Linked DNA regions of Homo sapiens. The protein of the gene in region 2 interacts with the protein of the main gene of each other region in a pairwise test. Each region holds a gene or a part of one and is shown on either strand. Other genes may lie near its edges.

Region 1 (6,862 bases), on a different chromosome or scaffold from region 2:
CTGTCCTTTCTTCCATGGGTCCCAGCGCTTTGTCCCCAGCCAATCATGCCAGCTGTACATGCCAGTTGTACGCAGGATTTTCTTCTGGGCCTGGGACTTGGGCTGGACAATGACCCTGATGACCCCAGAGGCCATTGGGGGCCAGGCTCCTTTGCTGCTGAACTTGCCTCCAGTTCGCACCCTTTCACTTGCTTTCTCATCCTCTCTCCCCAGGCACTGTCTTCATAGTCCACAGGTCTCAAACTCCAGCATCTCAGAATGAAAGGATTCACAAGTGCTCACAAGAGGCTTGGCTGCCAGGGGAAGCTCCGACCTGAAGATTTGAACTAATGAGGGACTATAAAGGCCAAGACCTTGTTCTTGCCATTTTAGAGATTCAGAATATAATCTACAAAGTTAGAGATTATAATTGGCCTCCACTGTGTGATTTGATTCCAAGCTACCCATGAAGAAACCCAGACTCAGAGGTCACTTGCCTAGGGTCACACAGTGACCTGAGATGGGAACCACAGGTCGCCACATAGACTTGGTCATCAGGAGTGGGCCTGGTGAGGCCAAAGAAGGAGATTTCATCTGTCAAGGTTACTCACACAGGGCAGCTGATTCTGTTTCCTAGGGCCTGTGTCTTAGGCTCTTCCATCTCTCTAACCACTAGAGTCCCTCTGTCCTCAAGTCATCACAGTAAACTCCCATTATGTCTCGGAATTCTCTTTGCCCAAGCACTCAGGCCCTGCCCTGGCAGCTCCAGAGGAATGCCCGGGACCTTTGTGAGCTGAGTGATGGGTCTCCCCATTTGTGGCAGGGGGAATTTGAATGTCTTAGGGAGAGCCCTTCCCCTCCTCTCCTGATATGGGGACTTCTGAGTTCCCTGGGAGAAGTTGAGGGCTGGGGTAGAAGTGGTAGGGAGCTCCGCCTGTCTTCTGGTACCTTGGGCTGTATTTCTATTACCACTGCCAAGTTGTGGAAGAAACAGTACTTATTGGCAAATGAGCATTTATTGAGTGCTTATTATATGCAGAGCAGTTGAAGGAAGGTAGATAGGAGAACGCCATCCAAGAACTGGAAGCAGCCCTTGTCCCCAAAGGGCTTACAGTCTAGCTGGGAGGCATTGTATATATACAACATCACAGCTTAAAGATACAAAACGACATTGAAGCACCATTTGCAGGTGCAAAGTCATTTGGCACAAAGTGGGAGTATGGGACAGCTCAGAACCTTCTCTGTCCCCAGCTTAGGGACCTGGAGGTCTGTCTACCTGTCTCCATGCTGCCCTGCCTCTGTCTGGTTTGGTGTGTGTGATCTCTGTTCTCTGACTGACCGGGTGCTCTTAAAGGGCAGAAACCAGCCCCACATTCTTTGTCCTCTCTACCCTGCTGCCCTCGCCAAGGCTCTCCGTCCACTGCAAGACAGTGGGTTGGGCTGGAAAGGCCCAGCCATGTGTTCTGGCTTCTGCCAGGGCCTCCCAGGAGCCTAGGATTTGTCTCAGTGGAAAAATCATGGGATTTTGTGTAAAAAGGTCTGAGTTCAAGTGTTGGCTCCACCATATACTACCTGTGAGACTTTAGACCAGTCCCTTAGCCTTGGTTTCTGAATCTGTAAAATGGGAAGAACAATATTTGCTCTACCTTTGTCACGGGGTTGGGAGATAATCACAGGGGACGATAAGGGGAAGCTTTGGAAATAGCAAAACCCTTCATGGCTGGGGGCCTTTGTCCTTCCCTAACCTATCTGAAGTTTGAGGAAGATCAGATAAGTCCGTGCATGCAAGGCACCCAGCACAGCAGCTGGTACACAAGAGATGCCAGGAACTGCCAATTTCCCTCCACCCCTGGAGTTCCATCACTTGGAATCCTTTTTTGACCTCTGACTCCAATCTGGGCAATAGAGGCTAGAAATGGTAGGGATTTCACATTTAGTTTTTGGGGAGATGCAATCCAAAAAGTGAAACAGACATAGAGAGAAATTCTTGGCTTCTTCTAGAGGAGTTTGTTGGGGTGAGGTGGGGTGGGGATGAGGTGCCTGAGACACATCCATGCTGGGCTCATAGCTCACTGCCTTGCTGCCTTTGAACCTCTAGAGCAAGGACACTCAGGTGCCAGGAGGACAGCTCTGGAGGTCACTTTGGTTTCTGACTCCACCCTTCTTCTGGTAGTGAGGCCAAGTGGCTGTCACTAGCTATTGGGGGTTTGGGAGAGTCCTCTCCATAGCACATATGGCCCAGGGCAGCCTTTTTTGGACCTCAAAGAGAGCTTTGGTCAAGGAAGACAGGAAAGAGCATAGATGAGAGGGGACACAATTACAGAGATGTTCCTTATACACTGTCTTTCTTGGATGGGAGCAGAAGGGAGAAAGAGGCTAGAGACTTAGTGCCTGGTGCACAGTGGGTGCTTGGTGCAGTGTGAGATAGATACAGACAGAAGTCTTGAAGGCATGGAGGCCACAGAGAGCATGGGGGCGGAGGGGGGTTCAAGGTATGACCCACATGTTACTTATACAGCAGGCTGGAGAGGGAAGGAGAGAATGGATAGGGCTGGGTGGTAGGAGGAAGGAGGTGGGAGAAAAGATAGGGCACACATTCAGGGTAAGAAGAGGTTAAGAGGCTGGGCCAGGATGGGGCCAGCCCCAAACCCATCTCCTTCTGCCTGGATCTTGTGGGCTCCCAGGACTCTCCTTTGCTTTGGCCATCAACGAAAGGAGGTAAGGGATGTTGAGCATCAGACTCCTTCTGCATCCTTCCCCCAGGAAGCAGAAATAATGAAATGATTCTAGTAATGCGTGATAATGGTATTAAGAATTACAGTTTACACAGCATCTTTACATGCGTCATCTCACTTAATCCCAGTTAATCTCTTTTGAGAGCAGTAGTACTGGCCTAGAAATTTAGAAGCCTGGGTTCTAGACTCAGATCTGCCTCTGCCTGGAGAAGTCATTTCCCTTCTCTGGTCCTGAGAGCAGCAGGCTGCTCTATCCACAATGACTGTCCAGTGGTAGGAGCCAGAAGCAGGGGATCACGGGCTGTGGAGAGGCAGACAGAGAAGGAACAGAGATTCCTGGGGTGGAAAAGCTGCTGCCTGAGGACTGGGGAGAGTGAGATGGGTGATGGATGGGTATTGCCTGGTGCCCATGGTTGCATGCCTGAGCGCCTTGCCCAGCCAGCCATAGGTGTGTGCTGGGCAAGAGGGCTCACTTGTGAAACTGAGTGTCTCCTTTCAAGAAGTGTCTAGGTGCAAATCTCCCCTCACCCAAGACAAAGGCCCGGGTCCCACAAAGGGCTTTTGTTTTCTGCGCCGAAGTGGGAGGCTAATCTCTGGGTCTGGGGCACCCCTGGAGACGGGGGTCCCGGGCACACACAGCATACACACACGTGAAGGCGTGCGCACTCATATGCCTGCTTCCTCTTTGGAGAGGTTCTCCCTCACCACAGAAAGGAAATCTTTGGCCACCAAAGATTTCCTTTTTCCAGAGGCCATGTCTAGGGGAGCTGTTCTCTGGTTGACACCTCTCTACCTCCAGCAATGAGTCTTGGCAAGCCTTGGGGCCCAGCGCTGCAGGTGGGGGAAATTTTCCAGGAGGAGCCAGATTGCGGCTGGAAATCAAGGCCCTCCCTTCAGCCCTCTCAAAGTGGCCTCCTTCCCTTCCCCTTCTCCTGAGGAGGACTGGCACCCACACTCATCCACTGCAGGAGAAGCGGATTTATTGCAGGTTGGGGAGGAAGGGGTGCAAGGGGAAGTGAGAAGTCCCCAGCCATGCACACTTGCACCAACGTAGGCAAACCTGTTCACACTCAGGGGCATGCACAACTCTGCATGTGAGGACAAAAGAGAACTTGGGGATGAACACACTTGCACACTAGTAAAACCAGTTGCATCATTCCCGGAACCCCCAAGGCAGGGGTCTGTACACTCCCCACTCAGTACCTGGGTGCAGGCTCTCCAGAGTTTCCCTCTTACCACCCACCTGCCTCCCTCCCCAGCTCAGTCCCCTAAGTTCCCAGTTCCCTGAAAAAGGCTGGAGAAGCCACCACTAGCTGCTCACAGCCTCAGGGCAGGGGACCTGCCAGGCTCAGGGCTCCCTCCGGCAGCCTCCTCCCCGCCTGCTCACAGCACTGGCCTGGGCGCGCACGTCCAGGAAGCAGCTACTCTGCGCTGGGGGGCCAACTTCAGACCTGCGGGAGAGGAGGGACGGGGTGGGCCCTTCTGCCTCGGGCCTCACAAGCGTCCGTCGGGGCCGTAGAGGCCGCTGGCGGCCCTCAGGCCTTGGTACCCCGTGGCAGGCTCTGCGGCGAGTGCAGCTCCACCGACTGCCGCCGTCGCACCTCGCGCTCCTCCCAATCGGTGTCCGGCTCCAGGCCCTTCAGCACTGCCAGGCGCTCCGACAGGCTCTTGGCTGGCGGAAACAGCACGTAGTTGTAGAGGAGGGAGCCCAGGATGGCGCCCACCAGGGGTCCGATCCAGAAGACCTGGGGGCGAGCGGAGAGGGCGGCTTGGCACCCGCGCCGGCACCGGCACGCGGAGCCCGCAGGCCCCGGCGGCACACTCTGCGGCCGCACCTCTCCTCCCCGACATTAATCTAGTAAAATGCTTATTTATGTAATTACAACGACAACGCCAGCTGCTGGGGAAGCCTTGTCAGTGCGGGGTTAAGGGTGCGAATTCTGAAGCCACTGCCTGTGTGTGTCCTGATTCCACCACTTAAGTGCTGTGTGCACTTCAACAAGTTACTTACCCTCTCTGTGCCTTTCACTCTAAGAATGTCTACCTCCTGGGGTGGTTGTGAAAACTGAGTTAATGTTTGCAAAGCACTCAGAACAAGGCTCACCACATACTAAGCACCAGATAAGTGCTAAATACTACCACTTATAGAGTTCTAAGTGCCAGACACTGCATTATCTGGGTTACACCGGTAACCTCACTTACTGTTCCCAAGAAGCCAGTGAGGTAAGCTGTTGTCATCCTCATTCACAGACGTGGAAACTGAGTCTTTGGCATCAGATCTGAGGGGTGGAACCCAAGGCTCCCCAGGACCAGGAGGAGTGTGGAGGGTTTGGGGTACCGCTGCTGAGCCCCCATCCCATGCTATTCCAGCTCTTGTTCTCCCTCTAAAATGGGTTTCTAGAGAAGGGGAGGGCAGGGGGTTTCAGCCATTACCCAGTGGTCATCAAATTTGCCAGTGACGACAGCTGGAGCCAGGGAGCGGGCAGGATTCATAGAGCAGCCGGTGTAATGGATCTGCAGTGGGAGGAGGGCATCAAAGAGAGAAGGGAGGTGAGGACAGGGCAGGAAGTCCTTGTCCCGCACTGCAGTGCTTGACCTCAGCCTAAAGGGAACCCACGTGATGGACAATTAACATCACGTTTTATTTACAGATGGGCTGGAGTGATATCTGTCCCTCTGGGGTATCTAGGAGTCAAACCTCTGGGGTGTCTGTTCCTCTTGAGAGTTCTGTGTATGTGTCCCTCTTGGGGTCTCTGTGTCTGTCTCTGGAGTGGTCTGTGTGTCTGTTCCTCCAGGGAGGCTGGAACCCATGGCCATGACCTACCCCAAGGAGGTGGCCCAGGGCCACAGAGAAGCCTATGGAGAGAGCAGGGGTGCCCGGGTTCTCTCCGCGGCGCTCATCGGTGGAGGCGAAGATGCAGAGCACCAGCTGCAGTGTCAGGAAGAGCTCCACAGTCACCGCCTGGCCAGCCGTCGTGCTGTTGCTGAGCTGGGGACAGAGAAGAGGCGGGTAGGGGAACACTGAGCCCACTTTCCTCTCTGGCTCCATCTTCCTGTCCACCTGCAGTCGAGGCACCAGGGGGCCTCTGGGCTGGGAGCCGGAACACCTGGGCTTGCCAGACGCCTTAGCTGCAACGACTGATCCCTTCTTCCTGGGCCCTGGCCCAAAGGCAGCCCCTGATCCCCCAGGATGCCCATGGTCCCCCCGCCAGAGGTAGCAAAACTGACTCTGTAGCCCATTAGATTGGGGCCTGAGGCTGGGAGCCTGCAGTATGAGAGGAAAAGAATGCTGAGATCCGGAATTTCTGTTTCCCAAAGAACAAGAAGGGAAGAGGTTTCAACTGCCTCAGGAAGCTTTGGGCCGGTTAGCAGGAAGACCTTCCTCTGTCTGTAGACCATCAGACCTTGGTGCAATGAGAGGCCTGTGGTCTTTCTTCCTGAGGTTAAATGGCTCCCAGAGACAGGGTCTAGGGACTTGGGTCTGGGGGACAGTCCTAGTGTGCCCCTTTCCGCTATGAGTCCGGAATCTACCTCTTTCCCTAACCCTTGTCTATTCCCCACTGCCTTTCAGGCCTCAGGTTTGCCCTGTTAGTTTGCTCCCTGCACATCCTATGGAGGTTGGGGTAAGGGCCCTGGAGCTGTGTTGGACAATGCCTCCACACCCATGTAGGCTGCCCATGGTCTCAGCAGACCCTGCCTTGGGTAAGGAGAGAACTCGGGGCTGAGTAAAGAGGTGATTTCATAACTGGGCCGCACCCAGCACTGGATTTCTCCTTGGGTTTTGTCACCCTGTACCCTACACCCTGCCTTCTGGGGCTGGGCACTGCACTGGGTGGAACAGTGACAGCTCTCAGCTCCCACGCTCTTTCTCCAGGCCCTGAACCCCCACCCCTGGGTCCGAGACATCAGGTCAGAACCCTTGGGTCTCTCTAGGGTCTAACCTCAATCCCTCCTATTGTTGTCCAATGCAGAGTCTCTAGAGGACAGTGAAAAGAGCTTTGGAAGCAGACACTTTGGAGGCCTCTGACTTGCCATGGGACTACTTAATTTGGCCTCAGTTTCTCCTTCTGTGAAATGGGATAAGAAAATGGATTCTGGAGGACTGTGGGAGGACTAGAAATGACATATTGGTTCTGTGACTTTGATCA
Region 2 (8,220 bases):
TTCAGGGTAGCTGGTCACAAGGATGTGCAAACTGGCCTCATCCCATTAATTATACTAGTTGCTTGCTCTCATTTCATGCCGCAGAAATAGAACGGAAGAAATGCACACTCTGTCTAAATCCTCAGTTTACTTGTAACTGCAATAGTTTCGGTAAATGTGTCCATTTCTAAGATAATTAAAATGTACCCACAAATATTTCAGGTTGAAAGCAAGCCCCTCATTTGTAACAGAAACTATATACTTTCTTTACATGGGCAGGTAGTCAAAGTGCAACTTACGAGCGAAATTGCTAGCCTCTCCTGTGTTCAAGAAGAATTTCTGCTGCTCTTCACTTGTCCTGCCAGCAAATTTATCAGCATAGTGACCCATCTGTGGGCATCCTTGATCTGGACACGGGAAGCACTTGTCCTAATGAGAAGAGATAGATGGGACTGTAAGGAGAATTTGTGTTTGTATGATCGATACATCTGAGAGGGCAGACACTCAATTTTCCTACAGCCTAAGCGTTCTCCTTTGTGACAACAAAGGGGTTGGAGCAGATGATCTCTAAATTACCTTCATCTGGATCAGGGTTCCCAACTTTTAGGCACAACACATTAGAATTATTTGAGGAGCTTTAAAAAATACTGATGCCCAGGACCCAGGTTAGATCAATTATACCTTCTGTTGAGTGGAGCTGGTGAATGATAAGCAGCAAAAGCTCTGGGACAAAAACCCTGGATTGCAGTGCTTACCATTTTCAGTGGTGTAAATACTCTGACTGTGGCCAGTTTCAGGCTACCAACATGATGTCTCTGAATTTGGAGTTGGGAAGGGATACTCATGCTGGCTTTCGTGAGCCAGAATAGGCAGGCTCTAACCTGTCATTCTTCATCTCTCCCCTTGTTGCCAGCCTGGCATATAGGACTCCAGCATCCACCTTGCTTTCTCTCTGGTGTGAATTATTCTCTATACATTCTTCTACTCTCGCTCTGCCCTTGCCAGAAATGTGCATTCCTGTGTTTTCTAAACTGTATCATTTTTAAGCTAGATTCAGAGGTTGCCTCCTGCAGGAAGCCTCTATATCATTGAATTGACTGCTCTTTCTCTCTGATTTCCCAGTTTTCCTCTGCCACATAACTCATGTCATCTAAAATTTTAGCCATCTCCTGCCAAAAGTTGTTTACTTTTTTTTCTCTTCCACTCCACAGGACCATGAACTCTGAGGGTCAATGCAAAACGTGTAGTGAGAAGGCATTGCAAATCCCAAACGCAGCAGGACAGCAGTCCCTCAGAGGGGTGATGCTTGTTGCTCGAGGCAGGACAATAGCTTACAGACTCAAAGGACTTGTAGGAAGTGCAGGGATATGCAGCAAACCCATCGGGATTGAGGATGCTTTCCAAGTAATACTTGTAGCTTCTTAGGTGATTGCAAGCCACAAAGTCCCGGGTTCCTGGGAAAACAAATAAGGAGACCTGAACAGGTGGTTGGGGGCCTGTAACAGCTTCTCTGCCTCTCTCTCCAAATGGGATGGTTCCAAAGTAGGACCGTATTTTCAGAAACTTAAGATAAATCCAAAATTCAGCCACCATAATGACAATTAACATATAGAGGGTGCTTTCTGTGTACAAGGCAACATTCTGATCACTTTACCTGCCTTGTCCATGTAATCCTCAGTCTTCCTAGGAGGTGGGTACCATATCATCCTTATTTATGCATTATCATCTCATTCCTATGTTACAGAAAGGACTACAGAGTGTAGCCTCAGATTTACAGCTTAGCTAATAGGTGGGAAAGCTGGTAATTAAACCCATGCCCATCTTGTCTTCGGCCCATCCCTCTAACCTTAGTGCCATCTCATGTCCCAGGCACCATGCTGGAGGTCCTCAAAGACATGACCAGATGTGACATGACCAAGCCAATGCGAGGACATTTCCATGCGGCAGTTATACAAATAAAAACAAGGGCTGGATAACTTTAGGTGGTTTTGTATGAGCTTCACTCTCATAGTGTCTTGATTTTACTTGCAACCTTTCTGGGCTCCCTGCAACTCCTGCCAAGTGACAAATGTTACATTATACCTTCTAGACCTGGCCTGAGCTTGCTGGGCCATTACTGATGAAGAGTTTTGACTGCCCTATGCACGCAAACCCTCATGAGGCTGTGAAAGACAAACTGCATATGTCCTCATTCTTTATTTTTTATTTTATTTTATTTTATTTTATTTTATTTTATTTTATTTTCGAGATGGAGTTTCGCTCTTGTTGCCCAGGCTGTGGTGCAATGGCATGGTCTCGGCTCACTGCAACCTTTGCCTCCTGGGTTCAAGCGATTCTCCTGACTCAGCCTCTCGAGCAGCTGGAATTGCAGCCACGCACCACCACGACTGGCTACTTTTTGTATTTTTAGTAGAGACGGGGTTTTACCATGTTGGCCAAGCTGGTCTCAAACTCCTGACCTCAAGTGATTTGCCCGCCTCGGCCTCCCAAAGTGCTGGGATTATAGGCGTGAGCCACCACAGCTGGCCTGTCCTCATTCTTAATATTTGCTTTGATGGCATCCATATATGCCAAGCCATTTTGATGAAATTCAGTAAAAATCTTTACTCATTACATTTGGTCAGACTACTAAGGGTTTTCTCCGTGTGGTGCCACATGACAAGTCTGGATGAAAACTTCACCTGTCCATTGTCCTTTTGGCCTCATTAGATACAGAGTCAGAGCTGTGTCTGCAGGATGCCCTTTCTTCCCAAGTGTGCTAGATCAACAATAAAGAATAACCACATCCAATAGCAGTCTCCCATCTCACCTTCCTTAACTGTGATTGCTCCTCATTCCTACTCAACATGGGTGAGCAATGGCTCTCATTGTGCAAATAGGCTTGCTGTGGAAACCACTGGGAATATTCTCATTCTAGCTACTGAAAGGGAGCTGATTACATCATTTTGAACCTTATCACTGACTCCCAAGAGAGAATTTGTAGCAAAAGTCTCTTAGTTACAGTCAGGATGTTTGCTCTTATGGTATTTCCTTTCTGTATTAGGTAACTACCAACTGATTGCTGGAGTCACAGCTTTAAGTGACAGTTTTATAATTCTTTGTTGCTTGTACATGCCAGGACATCCACAGCAATGTTTTAAGGAAGCACAAAAGCAGTAAAGCTGAGATATAACAAATACTATGTAGCTACATTTTTTCTGAAATAATCCCCAGAAGAGGGAATTGTATATTTTTAAAGACAGTTTCATTTTTATTCTTAAGATTTGCTGCAGAAAGGTATTGGTCACTCCAGGAAAGTACCCGCCCTGCTCCCCTCACCCCACCATGACTTTACCCGCCCAGATGCCATCTAGATCCACGATCTGAGACAGGGCATTCTTCTTGCATCCCGGCATGCTCTCTCCTCCATTGGGGAAGAAGTCAAGATGACCCATCTGTTGGTTCGTTCCAAAACCTGAAATGCTTAGAAAAACAATGAGCTTTTTGTCATGCAGGACTTTCATGGTTAAAACACAGTTGTGCGTGCTCACAGCTGGAGCATCATAGGTCTCACCCAAGAATGGGATCAGGGGAGCTGCATCCGTGTGAATCACATCAACAAAGTCAGCATCAGAGGGATCAAGTCGCACCTCTTCAGGAGTACTCTCGAAACTTGCTTCTACAGGATCCAACCCTAAAAGAGATGATCAGCACTGCAGAACAATAGACCTGACTGTAGATGTCAGCAGCACCAAGGTGTACAGCTGCCCGGGCTATGCACTGCCCAACTCAATGGGTACCATGCACCAGAGTGATGCAGTGCCATGGCCTTGGGTGCTAAATATGAGGACATAGAGTCTGAATGTGGCTCATTGCAAAAGGGTTCCCAGTGGCGTGGATGGAGGAGGACAAATGAGCAAAGAAATTTAGATTTTGTTTAAGCAAGGATTTTTTCCACACCAGAGTCTCCCATTTACTTGTGTATCTTTCTTCTTCATCATCCTTTCTCTCCCCAAGCTTGTAGAAAGAAAGGGGTGAAGCAATGTGGTATCATAGTTAAGAACACAGGTTCTGGGTCTAGGTTGCCTGGCTCCAAATTCCTACTCAGCTGCTTTTGGGGCAAGATGCATGACCTTGAGCATGTCACTCTACCTTTTTGTGCTTCAGGTTCTTCATTTTACAAAATGGGGTGATAATGGCATCTATTTGATATGGTTGTTATAGATTAAATGAGTTAATAGGTAGCACTTAGCACAATGCCTGGTGTATAGTCATGGGTGTATAAGTAAGATATTAATAATTATTGTTTTTGACAAATTTCCTTCTTAGTAGGGATCTTGGATTTGTTAATAGTTTTTGAAGGCTTCATTACAGCAGCTGATAAAATAGGAACGTGAATGTAGTTGCCAGCTGAAAATAAAAGAGAGATTTCTTATAAAGAGTTGCTTAAGCCAAACATCGGCAAAACCAGGTCTGGATCTCAGTTCTCCCACTGATGAGTTGTGTGGCTTTGGGCAAGTTATTTGCATCCCTGAGCCTTTTTCTTCAGTTCTGAGAATTATATAAGAAAATATAAAGCATTTTGTGCAGTATTTGGGATAAGCAGGCACTTAATCTATGCTTATCATAATAATTATAATAGCATTATTATTATTATTATCACCATCATATTATGTAGATATATCTTGCTGTTGCTGTTATAATTCAAATGCTTTGATTGGGTTAAAAGAATGCTTTTGGCCATAATGGCGACTGGGTTTCTTCTACTAGTAGAAGCAGTGGGAAACAATTTTTAGGTTCTATTCTGCCCTTGATTTCAAAGAGAAGGGAGAAAGAATTGGCAATATAGACCCTCCTTGATTATGTTTTGCTCATGTTCATACTAGTCTCACTCTGCATTTTCCTGGGTGCCCAGTCCTGTTGAGAGGCGAACACCACCAGAAAACCAGGACTTAGAAAGGAGGGGCTAGGACAGAGGTGGAAGAAGCAAAGAGGAACAAAATCACCCTTCCCTTGCCGTGAAGGTGGCGCATGAGCTTCTTGGGGGCTCCCTAAAATGTTCTGTGCAGGCTCCAAGCAGCTCTATCACAGCCAAGGGGGACAGTCTCCTTCAGGGGAGCTCTGAACTGGGCTGCATTCTTGAGACCTCATTCTGGGGTTTCTGGGGACAAAACTGGGGCCCTGCCTCTGGGGCCTTACCTGTAATCCTGCTCAGGCCTGGAGTCTTGCTTCCTGCCTCTCCAGCCACGTGGGCTCCCAGGCTGTGGCCAATGAGGTGAACTTTGGAAGGGGGGTAGCTATACTCTGTCTGGAGAGGGAAGATTGTATTTTCAGGACATTTTTTGCTGTGGTTTTTCTAAAATGCCAGCCTAATGGATATTACTCCTCTGCTGAAAACCTTCCATGCCTCTCATTGCCTTCAGGATCAAGCCCAAACTCATTCTGAAGGCCTCCGAGCTTTCCTAACTCATCATCTATTTTTCTAGACTCTTCAGCCAAACCCTTTGTTGAACTTTCAGACCCTCGAATACATCATAGCCTCTCACCTCTGGGCCTGGTTTGTTCTTCTCTTCTTGTTGTTGTCTATCCCCCAAGCACTTGCCAGCTAACATCAACAGACTAGCCTTCAGCTGTCAATTTAGACGTCTCTTCCTTGGGAGACCTCCTTAAGCCCTTTCCCCACCCCATCAGTGTGGATTAGCTGCCTTCTATGTGTTCCTGTAAAGCTCCTACTCTCCCCATCAGAACCCACTAATAGATCGCACTCTACTGGCATTGCAAGTTTTCACTGCAAGCTCCTTGATGGTCTGGGATCTCATGTGTCTTCTTTACTTCCTCACATACTCCTGACATTCTGCTCCAAAAGTACTGGTGAACAAGCAAATCAAATAGAGCTATGAGGTATTTGCACATGTTGATCTCAGAGACGTTCACCCAAAGGCACTTCATTTATTGGTCTATCATACTTCTTGCACAAATACCATGGGTTTTGATTTCTGCAGGAGTGCAGAAGTTGATTCTTTTGTAGACCCTTTAACTATAAGACAGAAATGGCTGTAGTCATTACCTGGTATAGAAAATAGTCACAAAGGATTAGCAACTTAAAGAATTAAAGACTGAAGGAGTTAGCTATAATGAAACAGTATAGGAAGAAATAAGTGAAATGATTGTGGCAGAAGGAATTCCCCAACATCAATAGGACCCATACCACCAGGCCAGTAGAGCTGGTACATGCCAATTGCACGTACTGTCCGTTGGCTCTCTGTGGCTCTCTCTGGCCATGCTGTGTTTCACGCGAAACAGAGCCCACCTGGTGTTGTGGGTGAATTCTGAAGCTAGATGGTCTGGATCAAAAGGCAGGTCTTCTATTCATTTGCTTTATGACTTTGGGAGCAAACTAGTTAAACTTTCTGGGCCTCAGTTTCTTTATCTGTAAATTGAAGATGATTTTTAAAAAACCACTTTCTAAGTGTTAGCGATTCTTATTTTTGCTTCCACTGGCGTGTCATTATGAAGGCAAATTTCAGAGTTTTAGAAGTAAGGTCTGGATATCAATTCTTTGTCCTTCTTTAATCCATAACTCTCAGCTGCATCTCTACCAAACAGAGACCAGCAGGCACTGCTTCCCTCCTCACATAGGCCAGCCAGCTGACTCACCAAGAGGATGTCGAGCATCTGGGCCACCTGGGCGCCCACCACTCGCACGTTGTTGGCAGCCTGTGTGTAGGTGGCTTGGGAGCCCTTCTTCCAGTCCACGCAGATGCAGTTCACCTCCTCCACCTCGAACAGTTTCTGGTGTTGGGGAGATAGTGGGGTTGGGGAGATAATGGGAGCAGGGGAAACCTTATCCAGCCAGGGCTCAGAAATGGCCACTTCTCTCTTCTCCTAGCTAGGGCATGAGATAAACTAGACTCTGTTAGGGAATCCTGTTGGTAATTAGGAGTTATCCTTCAGGGTGAATGCTATGAGAAAGGCAAACTGATTCCCCCTCCAGCTTGCAGATTAATTGGAAGCTGGCTACTCTCTGGTTTCCTTCAACCAAATTCAGTAAGGTTGGTTAGTAAGGGAAAAACAATTGCATCATGAAAAGAGTCCTGTTTTGAAAAGGAAAAGTCTTAGGTGCAATCTCCGGTGGCCAGTGTCTAAATGACCTTGTGGATTTGACTGTAAGGGGTCCTTTCAGGCTCTTGGCGATGCCCCAGGCTGCTGGAAAGTGAGAGAGAAGTTTCACTATTTTTATAGTCACGATGACACAGTACTTCATGGAGTAGACACATGTAGATATTTGAAAAATAGAACTGTACTGATTTAAAAGAGATTGAAGAATTCTGGAAGGAAAATGTCTTCCTGGATGTCAAAGGAGCTGATATATCTTTAGGAGTTCTGCCAGGCAGTACATATTACCAGCTTGAATTTAAAATGGTACTATAAATTTAAAATGCACTTGGAATCATTCCACATATAGTATACTAATATGTGTGATCACATGCACAGAGATAGTGGGAGTTTTCTCCTCAGGACTTTTCTTTTCTTTTCTTTTTTTCTTTCTTTTTTTTTTTTTTTTTTTGAGACAGCCTCATTCTGTCGCCCAGGCTGGAGTGCAGTGGCGCGATCTCAGCTCACTGCAACCTCTGCCTCCGAATTTAAGCAATTCTCCTGCCTCAGCCTCCTGAGTAGCTAGGACTACAGGCGCCTGCGACCACACCTGGCTAATTTTTGTACTTTTAGTAGAGACAGGGTTTCACCATGTTGGCTACGCTGGTCTTGAACTCCTGACCTCGGGTGATCCACCCGCCTCGGCCTCTCAAAGTGCTGGGATTACAGGCATGAGCCACTGCGCACCTGGCCAGGACTTTCATTTTCAAGCAATCCTGAGGAAACTTTCACAAGCCTGGAGAATTTGGAGTATAAACTGTATCAATAAGATGCTTATTAATGATAGGACAGGAAAGGTGCCAAGAGTGAAATGCCTGTTAAACCAAGGGCAAGTGCAGAATGACTTTAATTTTCTGGGTTTGTAATTTTTCCTTTTGACATTACTGGTTGGTGTTATTAATGTATGTGTGGAAGGCAGGCTCCTGGGGTAGGTAAATTCTTAGGTGACAGAAAAATCGATTGAACTAGTCTCCACATAAATAGAAAGGATGATGGTATATTGTGGTATATTGCACGCACATGTGTGTGTGTTTGTGTGTGTATGCACAAGTTGCACACATGTCCATGTATGTATGTGTGTGTGTGCACATGTGTGTATTCTTCTGT
Region 3 (8,220 bases), on a different chromosome or scaffold from region 2:
GCAGGCGGTGGTCCTCGGGTTTCTCCACTGAAGAGTTTATCTGTTTTCCCACCCCCACCCTTCCATCCTGGACTCTATGGAAGGAAGTCTCTTCCCTTCAGATGTGGGGAGCAAAGCTCCCCCTTTTTGAGGGTGGCTGCTGGCCTGTCCTTGCCAAGGGCTCACCTGTCGCATCTGGTCGGGCAAGGTGGGCCCGTAGGTTGGAGGAAAGCAATCTCAGAGCCATCCCACAAGGCACAAGGTGTCCTGGGCCCTAATGGGGCATGTCCCATGTGAGGGTGGGATGGATGAATACATGTCCTCTCATGATAAGTGCCCAAGAGCATATCAGATATGCATATATATCATATACCACAGAGCACATTGGGCTGACATTTCAGCCCAGAAGAAAAGTGCTTCCTGTAGTAGTAACAGTGACGAAAAGCCCTCACTTGTAATAACTCAACATTTTTCTGCTTCGACCTACCTCTGTGTTACCTTAAAAGTGAAAACAACTTGCTCCTTACCCTCAGGGGATCCTAGAAAGATCTAGAAAAACATTGTTATTGCCATTCAGGGCCTCTGAGTTTTAATAATTTAATAATTTAATTTAGTAATGAAATTAAGATATGGTTTGGTTTGCTTTCTATTACAGCATACTTGAACTAACACCTTGTTTTTCCTGGTGTATTATCTGATGACTGAGTGTAGGAACAATGTCATTAATGTGTGTTTCCTCTACTGCATAATTTCCACCCATGGAAGAGTCTCCATTAAGAGGACCTGCTACAAATGTGGAAGCTCAGAGACCTCGAAATGAAGTCATCTGTATCTGTTGGCCTGCTGGGTTAATTCTGTATGTGCTGGTGAAACTGGAGAAGTCTGCGTGCTTCTGACAATTGATGGTGGAATTCTACGAATTAAAGCGTTTTAGCAGGAAATGATTATGAAGGACCTGATCACTGTCTGTGTTTCCATAATGTGATAAGATTAGAGTAATGGGTGAAATGAGGAGCAATCAGGAAACATCTTTGTTCTTTTTCAACAGCTCTGAACAGCAACATGGGGTGCAAAGTCCTGCTCAACATTGGGCAGCAGATGCTGCGGCGGAAGGTGGTGGACTGTAGCCGGGAGGAGACGCGGCTGTCTCGCTGCCTGAACACTTTTGATCTGGTGGCCCTCGGGGTGGGCAGCACACTGGGTGCTGGTGTCTACGTCCTGGCTGGAGCTGTGGCCCGTGAGAATGCAGGCCCTGCCATTGTCATCTCCTTCCTGATCGCTGCGCTGGCCTCAGTGCTGGCTGGCCTGTGCTATGGCGAGTTTGGTGCTCGGGTCCCCAAGACGGGCTCAGCTTACCTCTACAGCTATGTCACCGTTGGAGAGCTCTGGGCCTTCATCACCGGCTGGAACTTAATCCTCTCCTACATCATCGGTAGGTCCCAGGGGTCCGGAGCTCGTGCCCTCTACCACTTTTCTGTTTGTTCCCACCTCCAAAGTGTGGGTGGATGCCCCACAGGGAGGTCATTCTTGTTAACACGAGAGGCACAGAATTAATAGGATGTTTCTGATTCATTTAGAGGTATTTAGTTTCTTTTAGTAGGTTTTTAAATTACTAGAGTAAATGCATCACTGATAGAGAAAAATTGGGAAAATAAAGAAAAGCATGAAGAAGAAAGTAGAAATACCCTGCCTGACAACATGGAGAAACTAATTCTCTCATTCATTCATTCATTCTTTTAATAAATGTTCATTGAGTACCTGCTCTGGGCTGGGCATTGTGCTAGATACTAGGGATCCCATGAAGGCATAAGACACTCTGTGTTCAGAAGTTTACTGTCTACAGATACAACTATGGTTAACATTTTTGTGAATTTAAATGTGTATTTTTCTACAGTGTATCTCTTTATAAAACAATATATAGTAAACATTTCTCATATCATTAGCTATTTTTCCACAGTAACATTTCTAATGCTTGCCTACCATTGTATAGATTTATATACACAGCGTAATGTATTGGTGTCTTTATGGGATGTTCAGATTGTTTCCATTATGTTGTTGCTGTTGTTATTAACAGTTAATTACTTTATGTCTTTGGGCTTAGCCATGATTCTTTTCCTTAAAACTGTCTAAGGAGCAGAATGGCTGTCAGTGGGTCTGCGTGTTTTTAAGGCCTTTGTTGACTGTGATCCTCCACGTAGCCAGGGGCCCCTTTCCCTGCAGTGTGGGCACTGGGCATCGGCCTGTAACACATCCACCCAGCAAATAAGGAAGCAAATGTAGAAAATCTTTCCGGTTTGCCAGGTAAACACGCTTTGCTTCTCTTTATGCTTTTTTGTATTTTGATTACAACTGAAGTTGAACACATCAACTTAAAAGAAACAAAAACCTAAGTCTCAGAAGCAAAGGGTACAAACGGCCACTCAACATGCCATTTATTTTTTTTTTTCTCAAACTTTTTGGTAATAGCGAAAAAACAGTAAGACCTGTTAAGTTGAGCCATGTGGGTTCCGCCTTGCTTCTGTGTCAGCTCCCACTGGACCCCACCACACCCTCCCTGGCCACACATGCTGCCTGCTGGGATCCTCGCAGCCCTGGGCTCCCCACAGCCCTATCTCTGCATGGGGGGCATCACTCCCCCTTCACCAGGACAGCTGGGGGAGGGCACACACTCACATTCTCCGAGCAGCACCTTCTCTTTCTTTCCAGCAGCTGCAGTATCTGCTGAGAGCCAACATAGCTTAGTCTTCTGGGTTCTAAAATAAAATTCACAATGTTTTCTTTCAATGCCACATCAAAACTTAACAACCACACATGGTTCTCACAAGCTGAAGTCTCTCACTGGGAATGTAGCTATTGTAAATGGACCGTTATGTTTCCAGAGGATTTACCTGAGCATAAAATATACATTGAGCATGAAATGCTTGCAGCTTCTAGACCAACAAATGTAAGGCTCTGCGAGAGTGCCGTTTGCTTGTGTGAAACCATTTGCATGCATTATAAAAATGTGTTCTCAGCCTTAGCTGCTGGGAAGGGCAGTTTTTCCAGCAAACATTTTTTTAAAAGGCATAATTCAGAAATTGGGAGTGGATAGGCTGGGAAGAAAGGCTGGGGTAGCCCCTGTCACTGAGCAGGACAGGGTTTGGGAGCCACGTTTGCCATAAGCCAGCTGCTTTGGGGGTGACAGGGAGATGGTGAGACCATTTTTACAGAATTCATAATAGATTGGCTGCTTAGGAGGAAGAAATGTGGTTAAACTTCTGAGTTGTTGGAAAGATACTTACTTATCATAAGACCAAATAGTGAAATTGAATCTCTGCAGATCACTGTGGCAATATGCTGTGGATAATTAGGACCATGGTCACCGACAAGGCCCGCTTTGAAAATAAAGGAAAACGCTCTATGAAAATGCTGGAATTTTAGTGACATTTCCTGAGAAACACCAATGGAAACACATTCTGACACCCTTTAGAATTATGTGAGAGGAGAGAATGAGAGTGAAAGACAGCAGCCAACTATTGTTGGCATTTTGAGTGCTGCCCTGTTGGTGTTCTTCGGCACCGGAGGGTGCAGGCTGAGGGGAGAACGAGGAGGGCTGGGGTCTGTCTGCTGTCCTGCACTCTGGGGATGCTGTGGCCTCCGAATCAGGTTCAGGCAAAAAGTGGCAGAGGTGGCTGATGCCAACACTGAGATGAGCAAGTGGCTTTGTCCCTGAGATGGAGTTCAGCCCCTTCAAGGACTTCCTAGGGCCCCTCTTCTTGCTGAGAGAAGAATTATGGTGCAGGCACCATCATCTCTGCAGCCAAGGGGTTCCTAGAAAAGAGGCTTCCTAAGCAGCATTCCTCCAGACTGCCAGCTGCACCCCAGGAGTGCATTATGAAATCAATTTTTCATGAGTTGTCATCAATGTTTACTTTTTTTAATGAAACAAAGTAGGTAGCATTAAATATTATCAGAGTGCCTCTCAGGTGGTAAGGGTAACACTCGTTTTGCGAACTTTTTATTCGGATATATATATTTGATAGAATACACCTGTGTATATTGGGTAGGATGTGAAGTGCATTCCTCTGTAGGCCCTAGAAGCCTTCTCGCACTTAGCACTAGTCGACCGTCACTTCTGGCTCAGCATACACTGTGGTCTGGCTGCTGCTGCCAGATTCCAGTGCACCGTCGGTGACTCCTGCAATGATGTTATCAACATGGAGCTCCACTACAAATACCTGGCTAACAGTTGTCCTCACATCTCCTCTGTTGTGTGTGCTTTGTGGCAGGTACTTCAAGCGTAGCGAGGGCCTGGAGCGCCACCTTCGACGAGCTGATAGGCAGACCCATCGGGGAGTTCTCACGGACACACATGACTCTGAACGCCCCCGGCGTGCTGGCTGAAAACCCCGACATATTCGCAGTGATCATAATTCTCATCTTGACAGGTAAAGCCCACACTTAAAAAGAGATCGGGTCAGAGTGATGGGCAAAGGTTTGGTGAGAGGCTCCTGTTAAGTTCCTTTCTTTACTTATCTCTTTAACCATAACCCCCATTTCTTTTTGTTTTGTTTTTGTACTGCATGCAGGCATCTTTATTTGTTCCTGTCTTCATTGCTTCTTATAGATTCAGATAGGGCCGGCCTGCTTCATAGCTGTTGAATTGTGTGCCATTTCATTAAAAGAGAATCTTAGGTGTTTAGCCTAGCTGTTTGTGGAATAAGATTTTGTCTGCACTGCAGGCTTTTTGTGTGAGTGTCCTGGGAATAAAAGTTCTTTTGACTCAGTGGATGACCATTTGGAAAGCAAAACTGTCATTCATCAGCCAGGAAAATGTGGAGGAATGAGCTCCGTCTGGAACACTAATGTGTGCCTGGGGCGTCTGAAGATGACTTGGATGGTTTTTACACCTAACAACCATCAAAACACCCTTTCAGTAAATAAGTTTCATGACAGAGTTGTGGTTACAGAATTTGAAAAATCCCAGAGACTGCCTGAACACAGCTGATGGCAACTTCTTGCTAGTGACATTTGTGCGTGTCTTGGCCAGTGCAGCGCGAGTTTTGCTCTGTGGGGCTCCATAAACATGAAGCTGAAATGCAGATAAATTCTCATTTGGGGTTAGAAAATCTTGGATGAGTTTTAAAAATGACATGCCTTATTTTACACACCACATAATTGAAATAACTTCACTCAGGCTGGTCTCAGCAGTATTTCTGGTCCAGCTGGCAGAAACATGCATCAGAAAGTAAGTCTGCACTAGTGAGATTTCATTTTAATAAACCTGAGAGGGAGGGACACTAAAGAAACAATATATTGTTGTTTGTTGAGGTGTTCTCCCTGTGATTAATTACACAATTCTCTTCTAACATCTGTACTTTATAATTCAATCTCAAAAGTACAGCAGTTTTTATTTTATTTTATTTTATTTTATATTTGAGACAGAGTCTTGTTCTGTCACCCAGGCTGGAGTGCAGTTGCGCGATCTTGGCTCACTGCAACCTCTGCCTCCTGGGTTCAAGCGATTCTCACACCTCAGCCTCCCCAGTAGCTGCGATTACAGACACGCACCACCACACCCAGTTAATCTTTTATATTTTTAGTAGAGGTAAGGTTTTGCCATATTGGCCAGGCTGGTCTGGAACTCCTGACCTCAAAAGATCTGCCTGCTTCCCAAAGTATTGGGATTACAGGCGTGAGCGACCGCACCTAGCCAATTTTTATTTTAAAACGATGAGAGGCGTCCATGGCAGAGCAGTGGTCTCAAATCCTGGCTGTGTTCGAGTGGTACCAACCCCTTCTGTGCCACTTTTCTTGCCCAGCAGAGAGTTCAGCTATGGAAGTACCCGAATGACCTCTTCACCCTAAGGTGGTGCTGGGGCATGTGCCTCAAAGGCAGTGCTGTCAGAGGTTCCTGGGCATCTTTATTACTTATAGTTTTCTTTAAAAAAAAAACGTGAGTTTGCAAGCTAGAGCTAGCCTAGCTCAGATGTTATTTTATATGCACTGAGTCCAACGAAGAACCATGTGTGTTAGTGGTTCCAGAACCATAGCTAGTTGTTATTGTTAATATCACTAACATCCCAAAGTCAACCAGAATAATTTCCTCTTCTGAAAAATGTCCATTCTCCCAGGAAACTATGCAAAGTCTTTCTTCCTGGAATTGTTCCTAGAGGTTGTTTCCCAGCAACGCATCCTTTTAGTGAGAGGGAGCGGCTTGGTGTGCGGGTCCAGGCTTTCCCCTCCCTATGAGAGGGGCTCATGCTCCAGATCTCTGCAGTTCTCGGGTGCCCCTTGGGTGGGCTTCTCAGTTCCCAAGGGTATCTGGAGGTCACCTAGGAGGGCCTGGGAAGCACCCACAACCTTGGTGATTTAAACCCCTGATCCCCGCCCCCAGAAAGATAATTAATCCACCCCATTCCCAGAGGCTCACAGAGGTCTGCAGAGGCTCGATGCACTTGGATTCTTTTTCAGTCGCCTTCTTATCCCCATCCAGGAAGGACCTTCCCAGTTTGTGGTTAACACTCAGACAAAGTTTTGTGTCTATGCACTTTTTCAGGACTTTTAACTCTTGGTGTGAAAGAGTCGGCCATGGTCAACAAAATATTCACTTGTATTAACGTCCTGGTCCTGGGCTTCATAATGGTGTCAGGATTTGTGAAAGGATCGGTTAAAAACTGGCAGCTCACGGAGGAGGATTTTGGGAACACATCAGGCCGTCTCTGTTTGAACAAGTGAGTTGCTGCTTCTGACCATTTTTCTTAGTTGACATTTAATGACATAGATTGTATGGGGGATATAACTGGCTAGGATGGCATGTGCTTTTAAGAAAACATTATTTGAGGATATTTTGTTAATTGTTTTGTGTTTTTGCAGTGAAGTAGCTGAGGGTATTTTGTATGTATCAAGTTTGTGTGAAGGTTTATTCCCCTGAAATGGAAAGACTATTGTATGACAAGAAAGACTGAGGAAAAGAAAATCATCACCCTAATTCCAAATTGTGTATCATTCAGGATTCTTGTCAGACTCATTAAATGATCCCTCTTTCCCCAGATTCTGTTTGATGGCCAACTTTGGAATTTTGTGTTCAGAAAAGATTTTTCTCTGCAGTGCCGTGGTGACCTCACTTCACCTTTAAATACCTTCCTATTAGATTAATAATGTAGAGGGAAGAGAAATAGGTGAAACTATTTTTGAAGGTTTTCAGAATGACTGAAGTGTCAGAATGTGAGCACAATAGTCTTTCGCCGACATTTGACTTGTGCTGCTCAAGCCCTGGCGACAGTGGCCCCATCACCCTCATGTCTCTGACACAGACATCCGGAACTGGAGGTGACAGCTCCACCCTGTGCCATCTCAGGTCTCTCGCCCAGCCCTCATTGAAAGCTCAGATAACCTAGGAAAAAAAAGCCAAACAGTCATATCTTTTTTATCTTTGTTGTCAGATCTCCATGTAATTCTTTAGGTCTCAGGATGGACAATGGGGACTTGGATTTTGTGTGTGATTCTTCATTAAGACTGAAGGTTGAAACTGCTATGATAAAGAGACCCCCTCCAACTGCCACAATGGAGTGTGGCTTTAAAGAAGAGATGTTTCCAGTCCTGAAGTGAGCAGTCCGCGTTGGCTGGCCAGCTTTGCCACAGGCCTCTGTGGACCTAGACATCTTCTGTCTTGCTCCATCTTCCCCCAGGACATTGTCCTCATCTGCCTGGTCAGAGCTGGCTGTAGGCACGAGCATGACCCAGCTCTTCCAGAAGGGAAAAGAGAGCGTAGAGGAGAGTGCTCAGGTCTGTTCAGGACAGACCAGAAGACACACAGACATTCCATTGGCAAGAGTCCACTGGGGGCCACATAGAGCTGCAAGGGAGGCTGAGAAGCACTATCTCACATTGGGAATCTTAGCAGTCACGTATGCCCAGTTGGTCACTGGTTCAGGGCCAGGTGCCAGCCATGTCGCCCAGTATTGTTACCAGTGGGCAGGCATTGATGTGTGACTACTTGAATGGAAACAGGAAACTATGGCATTCGGTGCACGAAACTTCACTAACACTAATATTTTGTGGTTAGCAGTTCTAATAAAACTGCTTTCCTAAACTCTGTTATGGAGAACTGAGGCCTTTGAATATGTCATCCCGAGCATTTCAGAGTCATATTTATGCCAAATTTATGGGTGTCCATTAATCTAGGGTGGAGTGAAGCCAATTCCAAATATGTGTTGAAGTAACGTGTAGCCTTTGAAAACTCAGAGCATATTCGACCGG
Region 4 (8,220 bases), on a different chromosome or scaffold from region 2:
TGTCGGATGTTTGAAAAACACAGGGTTAAGTGATCTGTAGAGCATCTATTTTTATCTGGATTTATACCTAGCCATTAAATTCAAGGGAAATTAATGGCTAGATATAAATCCAGACATAAATAGCTAGTAAGCGATGCTTACCAGGAAGGCATTCTGGGAACCAGGTAGAGTTATTGAGATTTATAAGAAGTGAACAGTGATACAGACATGGAGATGTTTCCAAATATCATCCTACTACTTGCAACCCTTTGCACTTTTCGTTTTAATAGTGAGTTTCCTTCGTCTGGGCAGACTCCCTCCCCTCTTCCATAAAGGCTGCAGGAGACCTGTAGCTGTCACAGGACCTTCCCTAAGAGCCCGCAGGGGAAGACTGCCCCAGTCCGGCCATCACCATGCTCCGGACCATTCTGGATGCTCCCCAGCGGTTGCTGAAGGAGGGGAGAGCGTCCCGGCAGCTGGTGCTGGTGGTGGTATTCGTCGCTTTGCTCCTGGACAACATGCTGTTTACTGTGGTGGGTACGTTTGTGGGTCTTTGTGCTGAGGGTTAATTTGCTGTGGGCCCCAGCAGGCAGTGTACACCCTGCTTGAGTTCAACAGTGAATCCATCTGAGAATTTTCCTTTTTATGCTCAAAAACACACAGAGGTTGTTGGGGACTGGAAAAAAGCCCTGCAGAAAATGGAGTCTGACACTTGTCAAACACAGCTAAAAGACTCAGGAGGTTCAAAGAGCAGGAGGTCCAGAGAGGGTCTGACTGGAGAAGAGGATGGCCCGGAGCCAGAACTGGCTGTGCTTTTCTTTCTCCCCACACTGTCTTCTCAAGGTGCTAATGACTCCAAGTGCCTCTGAGGCAGCGAGATCTTCTCACAGGGGTGCCTTTCTGGACTCTGCTCTATAAAAACAGCATATTTTATTTGGATATCTGATTTAGTATCAAGACCTTGCCTTCCTTGTGGTTCTTTCCCTCAGAATCCTGCTTTTTTTAGTTGATACTCTCCTAATCATTACATTAAGTTACACCCTTGTATAAATGGGCACTAAAAGGTTTCTCCTCTTGGGTAAAACATATGTTTTTAAAAAAGGATCTTTCTGAGACAAGTTGTTAATCCAATACAATCACTTCTCATTATTCATAGTTCTGTAGTTATAGTTATGCTCTATAAAGTCGCTGCAAACACTGAATTAGTGAATACTGAATCATTGCTCCCAGGGAAACACACACACACACACACACACACACACACACACAATTATAATCTTAAATCTTAAACATCGTGGTACATCGTGTTTTCTTTATAAAAGAGAAAAAGAAGTTCAGAAGTGTTAAGTGACTTGCCCAAGGCCTCTCCACTAGCAGGTGCCAGAGTTGGGATTCAAACCCTGTCCAGGGGTCCCAGAGCTGAGGCTCCTCTGACCACCCTGCCCTTCCTCCTCCCATCCCCTCCTGTGGCCAGGTCTGTGTGAGAGCTGGACATGTCTGTGAAATGTCGTGGTAGCTCAGTGTGTGTTGGTTTGGGGGGTTACATGTCAATCTAAGTGAGTAGGAGAGTTAGCCAATGTGGAAACCATGAACAATGAGGACTAACTGTATAAGGTCAGAATTTAGCTACTTTAGCTAATAGGATAACTTGGGCAGGCACAGTCTTTTAGTAGGTTTTAACCATGCCACTCCAGATACCAGCCTTGGGCATAAGGCTGAACCTCATCATAGTCCCCTGATCCTAGTAGTGGTAAGATGACATCTGTCCTTAGCCCCCATCACCTGTCCTCCTTGACTTTCAGTAGAATTGACATCTGTCCTTAGCCCCTTGAGTTTCAGTGGTAAGATGACATCGGTCCTTAGCCCCCATCACCTGTCCTCTTTGACTTTCAGTGCCAATTGTGCCCACCTTCCTATATGACATGGAGTTCAAAGAAGTCAACTCTTCTCTGCACCTCGGCCATGCCGGAAGTTCCCCACATGCCCTCGCCTCTCCTGCCTTTTCCACCATCTTCTCCTTCTTCAACAACAACACCGTGGCTGTTGAAGAAAGCGTACCTAGTGGAATAGCATGGATGAATGACACTGCCAGCACCATCCCACCTCCAGCCACTGAAGCCATCTCAGCTCATAAAAACAACTGCTTGCAAGGCACAGGTTTCTTGGAGGAAGAGATTACCCGGGTCGGGGTTCTGTTTGCTTCAAAGGCTGTGATGCAACTTCTGGTCAACCCATTCGTGGGCCCTCTCACCAACAGGTATCTCACTGGGTGCAGTGCCCCGCAGGGTACACAGGAGTAGGAGGACTAGAAAAGTATAGAAAGGGGGTTGGAAGGGAAAAAGAAGAAATACTCACTTGTATGATTCCTCAGGGGAGTCAGCTATTCGGAAAGCTCGTTACTCAAAGAATAACATGTTACTGATGAAATGTTATGGGATCAGATTTTCTTAGTGATATATTGAGTATTGAGTACCAAGAAGAGAACCATGAACAGCAGTGTGCTGTGATGTTCTATCAGTGACCTGGAGCATGGCTTGAATGGGAAAAGGGTATGAATGGGACAGTCCTGTTGTAATCTAGAGCACTGGCTTCCCAGGAGTTGTATTGACGATTATTCTGATATTTTCAAGAGATATACACTCCACCTAGGCTATCATTTCTGGAAATGAGAATTTTGGCCCTGATCTATGGTCATATCTGCATGTTTGTTTGTTTGCTCATACTCATCCACATGCCCTATTTCATCTCCACACTACATTCAGAGGCATGTTTTACCATACACCCAAATAGCTGCATTTCTGCTCCCACTTACATTTAAAAATGTAGTCCATGTATGTGAGTGCCTGTTGGAATTGTATCTTTTTTTTTTTCAATTCCCTTTTAGGATTGGATATCATATCCCCATGTTTGCTGGCTTTGTTATCATGTTTCTCTCCACAGTTAGTAAGTAATTTGCTTCCTCTTTTCTTCCCTTCACTGATTACCTTTGATTTTATCAAGTGAATGCGGTGTAGATAGCAGGGTAACCTAGAATGTAATTAGGCATCTGACTAAGCAGACTGGAATATTGGTTTAAATGCTCTGCTGTTTTTGGTATGTGGACTAGAACAGTAGTGACAATTCAGTCTAGTTGGAATTGGTCTATTCTGCTATAGAAGAACAGATATTTTATTCACTTCACTTCAGCTGGACATAATGAGAGCTGTTTGAATATGTATGCTACGGGGTGTGTGTGTGTGTGTGTGTGTGTGTGTGTTATATGCATCAGTAATCCCTTGAGCAAGTTTAATACAAACTTTCCATCTATGAGAAGCAATGATATTATTTTGTTATGCCATGGAAAAGGGCAACTCACAAAAAAATGGAAATTGGACAATAACATCTGGAAAATTCCAAAAAGCCTACTGCTTTTCAGTTAAGGGCTTTAAAGGTTAAGCTTAGAAAAGTAAATTTGCTAAAGAAACAAGAAAGAGAAAGACAAATACTCTATCCAGGATCAGCTAAATGTTTCTAATAAAATGGAGATGGGATAAACACAGTACATGAGAAAAGTAAGTCTGGAAATTGATGCTGAGAAGTAAAGGAAGAAGGAATGAAAAGGGTTAGCGTTAGCAGGTTAAGGCAGGGGAAGGCAGCCTGTGGATCCAGCCTTGGTTCCCGATGGCCCTGCTGAACCTCTGCTCTCCAACAACACACCTCCTTCTCCCTCGCGTTTTTCTTTTCTTTTCTTTTCTTTTTAATTATACTTTAAGTTCTAGGGTACACGTGCACAACGTGCAGGTTTGTTACGTATGTATACATGTGCCATGTTGGAGTACTGCACCCATTAACTCATCATTTACATTAGGTATATCTCCTAATGCTATCCCTCCCCTCTCCCCCGACTCCATGACAGGCCCCGGTGTGTGAAGTTCCCCTTCCGGTGTCCATGTGTTCTCTGTTCAATTCCCACCTATGAGTGAGAACATGCCTCTCATTTTTCTTATTACCTTTCTGTTCCTTGTCTACTTTCTGTCTTCCTCTTCCTCAACTTTTCTTCTTTCCCAGCACAGAACTTGATTCCTAGCAACCCAATATTTAACAAGAATTTGTTGCATTCTGGGCTGGAAGGCTGCAAACTGCAAGAACTTGAGATGTGAGGTTGTCTCTGAGAACTACGTCTTGTTTGTGAAATTTTAGTGGACTTGAAGAAAATGAAGAAATTCAAATTAGCACTGTTCATGGAACTTCTAGCAGTTCAGCCTAAGTTAGACAGCAAATTTAAAAATAATAAGATGCCAGGTGCCCTATTTCATCAAATGAGGCTTAAGATTTATTCCAAACAACTTTATGCAGTGCATGTATAATGCCCAGATGGCCATAGTCACATAAAGAATGAAAAGACATGATTCCAGCTATCAGAAGTGTATATGATGGTTGCCTGGGGAGACATGAGACACACACTGAGAAGTAAGACAATGCGGTGTGCTAGTGGATCTGAGACGTTTTAGCATGATATCCTTGCCTGATTCTCTGCCAAGAATTCATGTGTTAAAAGCTTTACTTTTAAAGTAAACTGTATATGTTAAGTAATTATTGTTTAACTTATACCAAACTATATATGTTAAATAATTATTATTTCCATAGGATAGCTGTGTTGCTATATGGAGTTGGCCTAATTCTAACCAAAAGAAAATACATTTGATGTTTAGGGTATCCTTGTCCAATGTTCTAAAAAATACTTAAAAGAGATTGTTGATGCCCGTTACTACCCTTAAACCCTCCACCCCCCAACTAGGAGCCATGCCTAATGTAATCAAGAGTGAAATGGTGGCCCATGTAAAGGGTCCAAAGTGAAAAAAATAATTGCTTTGGTATTCCTAAATAGAATGACCAACTCTCCTGGTTTGCCTAGAATTGAGGGGTGTCTTAGTCCATTTAGCATTGCTATAAAGGAGTACCTGAGGCTGGGTCATTTATATTAGAAAGAGGTTTGTTGGCTCATGGTTCTGCAGGCTCTACAAGAAGCATGACACCAGCATCTGCTTCTGGTGCGGGCCTCAGGGAGCTTCCACTCATGGTGGAAGGTGAAGGGGAGCTGGCTGTGCAGAGATGAGAGAGGAAGAAAGAGAGAGGAGAGGGAGGTGCCAGCCTTTTTTTAACCAGCAGCTCTTGAGAGAACTGTAGAGTGAGAACTCACTCACCACCAAAGGAAGACATTAAAGTATTCATGAGGGATCCTTCCCCATAACCCAAACACCTTCCACTGGGCCCCATCTCCAACACCGGGGATCAAATTTCAACATGAGATTTGGTGGGGACAAACAACCCATGTCCACACTGTAGTGAGGGGCTTCCCAGGATGTAAGACTTCCTGTTTTTGTGGGGTATTTTGAGTTTCAGTTTTAAAAACAAGGAAGTTCTGGGCAGACCAAGATGAGTGGGTCACTCTATTCTCAAAGGACATTGGGAGAGTAGACAGAAAAGACTGGAAATAACAAAGTCTGAGAAAAGATGCTGGTGGCCAGGAAAGAAGAGACCAAGAATGTGCATCTTTGGGAGACAAGGAGAAGTTCGGTGTGATCATGTCTGCCGGGAAGTAATGGGAGAAGATTAAAAACACAACCAAAGACATCTGTAATGAATGGGCAAAGGGATTACAATTCTTCTGATTCAGACACTTCGAGGAGATTATTCTTACCCTAGGAGACATTTTTCTGGAATTGGAGGTGAGACATGTCTGGACTTAACTACCCTGACCACCAGCACCCTCTGATTTAGTTTTGTGTTGCGGGAAGTCAGGGACCCTGAATGGAAGGACCTGCTGAAGCCATGACAGAAGAACATAAATCATGAAGATTTCATGGACATTTATTAGTTCCCCAAATTAATACTTTTATAATTTCTCACACTTGTCTTTACTGCAATCTCTGAACATAAAATTGTGAAGATTTCATGGACATTTATCACTTCCCCAATTATCAATACTCTTATAATTTCCTATGCCTGTCTTTACTTTAATCTCTTAATCCCATGGTCTTCGTAAACTGAGGATGTATGTCGACTCAGGACCCTGTGAGGATTGCGTTAACTGCACAAATTGTTCATAAAGCGTGTGTGTTTGAACAATATGAGATCTCAGAACCTTGAAAAAAGAATAGGATAATGGAGATGTTCAGGGAGCAAGGGGAGATAACCATTAGGTCTGACTGTCTGGGAGCCTGGCAGGACAGAGCCATATTTCTCTTATTGTTTTGGATGACATATTCCTGTTGGATCTCAGTTTCCTGGGTGTCCATCTTCAACACACTGCCTCTCTTCACGGACAATAACTAGATGTTATTTTTATTTTGCATTTGCTACAGAGTCTAGCAGAGCTGCGCATTCAGTATAATTTAATACCTGCTGATTTTGTCTGGTTAAAAGATCGTTCAATATAAGATATAAAAAAGGATCTGATTGTATCACAAGATATTATTTTCTACCCAATTCCTATAATCCTCGAAGCACCTACTTACTGTCACTGTACTCCAGATGATCCTGTGGGACCCAGCAATGGTAAAGACCAGATCTGGATTTTGCACATGGACGATCCAGGAGTATGATCTAAGAACCAGTTTCCAGCCTAGGACACTGAGCTTCATGGACATCCCTCATTTCAGTGGACAGAATGTTGGGTTCTTGGCAAGAGATGTACAGACTCAGCCTTCCATCTGCTGTGTGGTGACTCGGTTTATACTTCTGTGGTTTCTCAGTTTTCTTGCCATTTAAATAGCAAAACTGAGGAGTGGGAGATTGAAAAGACAACTCAAAAAACAGGGAACAGTCATCATGCTTTATTAAAAACATATGCATCAAGACTCATATCTGCAGTATCACGGGCATGTTCTCTGGCGGCTGGGGAAGCAAAGGCAATTTGCTAACTGCAGTTATCTTGCTATTCTCTCTGCCCAGTGTTTGCTTTTTCTGGGACCTATACTCTACTCTTTGTGGCCCGAACCCTTCAAGGCATTGGATCTTCATTTTCATCTGTTGCAGGTAACACTGGCAACTCATCATGCACACACACATGCAGGCATGCACACACACACATCTCTTACTACCTCAGATCCTATATTTACATGGAGAAATTAAGGAAAATGTCACCTGGATAGGTAGAAATTGTGATTCAGAAATAAGGGAATTGGGCTGGGCACAGTGGCTCACACCTGTAACCCCTGCACTTTGGGAAGCCAAGGCAGGAGGATAGCTTGATTCTAGGAGTCTGAGACCAACCCGGGCAGCCTGGGCAACATAGTGAGAGCCCTATTTCTATTAAAAAAAAGAGAGAATAAGTTAGCCAGGCATGGTGGTGTGCACCTGTGGTCCCAGCTACTTGGGAGGCTAAAGTGGGAGGATGGCTTGAGCTTGGGTGGTCAAGGCTGCAGTGAGCCATGATTGTGCCTCTGCACTTCAGCCTGGGTGACAGAGCTAGACCCTAACTCAAAAAAAAAAAAAAAAAAAGAAAGGAATTACAGAGTTTCTAACAGGGTCCATAGATCTCTGAGCCTGACATAACTTCCTCTGCTAATATTCAGATGCAGCTAGCTCAGGTCAGAGCAAGCCTCCAGTGAAGCTATGAAGAAGGGCAGGCTTTCATTTAGTGCCACTCTATGGTCCTTTTTCTGTCCCCCTCTTAGTACTTTATAGGAATAATCATGTTAGTACTACTGGTAACACCAGCACAGTTTTCAAAGTACTGGTGAATATAATATCTAATGCAATCTTATGAAGTTGGCATTTTATGCCATTTTACCCATAGCTATGAAGGCCAGAGGGTCCAGCTGCCGTACAGCACTAGCCCACACTTTCTTCCAGGTCTGCAGTGCTTTCCTGCTCTTCCCTGGGCACCCCTGTTAAATAGAATGGTCTCTGTGTGCCTAGATTTTCCTTTCCCTGATCTGCTCTGTAACCCCTCATTTTGGGAAATGTGCTAGGAAATGATAAAATGTTATGAAACATGGTATAATCAGACAATGGATTTTCTGTGTTATCCTTCCAGAGGGCTTGCACTATCAACAATATTCTGAACAGGAGTGGACAATGTGGGGGCTTGGGGGACTAGGGAGGGTAGTACTTGAAAAATACTACGGGTTAAGTTTTGTAAAACCCCTCAAACTGAAACTCTAGCTAAGATTGTCACTGAAGAGATAACAGGGTGGGACCAAGGGCTCTGAGAGGCGGATAGAAGCCCCCCAGGGGGCCAGCTGCATCTGTAACTCT

What was found.
Region 1: the proteins of PNLIPRP1 (region 2) and AQP2 interact in binary tests that used the Homo sapiens proteins (3 or more experiments, as listed by UniProt).
Region 3: the proteins of PNLIPRP1 (region 2) and SLC7A1 interact in binary tests that used the Homo sapiens proteins (3 or more experiments, as listed by UniProt).
Region 4: the proteins of PNLIPRP1 (region 2) and SLC18A1 interact in binary tests that used the Homo sapiens proteins (3 or more experiments, as listed by UniProt).

Annotation. Positions count from the first base shown.
Region 1 is NC_000012.12:49,952,996-49,959,857, reverse strand, and holds the end of AQP2 (aquaporin-2), read right to left. Parts: intron 5,725-6,862; exon of another isoform or gene 5,704-5,724; coding exon 5,539-5,703; exon of another isoform or gene 5,510-5,538; intron 5,229-5,509; coding exon 5,148-5,228; intron 4,460-5,147; coding exon 4,250-4,459; 3' UTR 980-4,249; downstream 1-979. UniProt on the Homo sapiens protein: Forms a water-specific channel that provides the plasma membranes of renal collecting duct with high permeability to water, thereby permitting water to move in the direction of an osmotic gradient. Plays an essential role in renal water homeostasis.
Region 2 is NC_000010.11:116,593,260-116,601,479, reverse strand, and holds part of PNLIPRP1 (inactive pancreatic lipase-related protein 1 precursor), read right to left. Parts: intron 6,751-8,220; coding exon 6,616-6,750; intron 5,267-6,615; coding exon 5,158-5,266; intron 3,653-5,157; coding exon 3,533-3,652; intron 3,442-3,532; coding exon of another isoform or gene 3,434-3,441; coding exon 3,314-3,433; intron 1,434-3,313; coding exon 1,315-1,433; intron 409-1,314; coding exon 279-408; intron 1-278. UniProt on the Homo sapiens protein: May function as inhibitor of dietary triglyceride digestion. Lacks detectable lipase activity towards triglycerides, diglycerides, phosphatidylcholine, galactolipids or cholesterol esters (in vitro).
Region 3 is NC_000013.11:29,529,010-29,537,229, reverse strand, and holds part of SLC7A1 (high affinity cationic amino acid transporter 1), read left to right. Parts: intron 1-1,027; 5' UTR 1,028-1,041; coding exon 1,042-1,411; intron 1,412-4,247; coding exon 4,248-4,406; intron 4,407-6,517; coding exon 6,518-6,692; intron 6,693-8,220. UniProt on the Homo sapiens protein: High-affinity, low capacity permease involved in the transport of the cationic amino acids (arginine, lysine and ornithine) in non-hepatic tissues.
Region 4 is NC_000008.11:20,173,137-20,181,356, reverse strand, and holds part of SLC18A1 (chromaffin granule amine transporter), read left to right. Parts: intron 1-269; 5' UTR 270-392; coding exon 393-516; intron 517-1,872; coding exon 1,873-2,236; intron 2,237-2,863; coding exon 2,864-2,922; intron 2,923-6,912; coding exon 6,913-6,996; intron 6,997-8,220.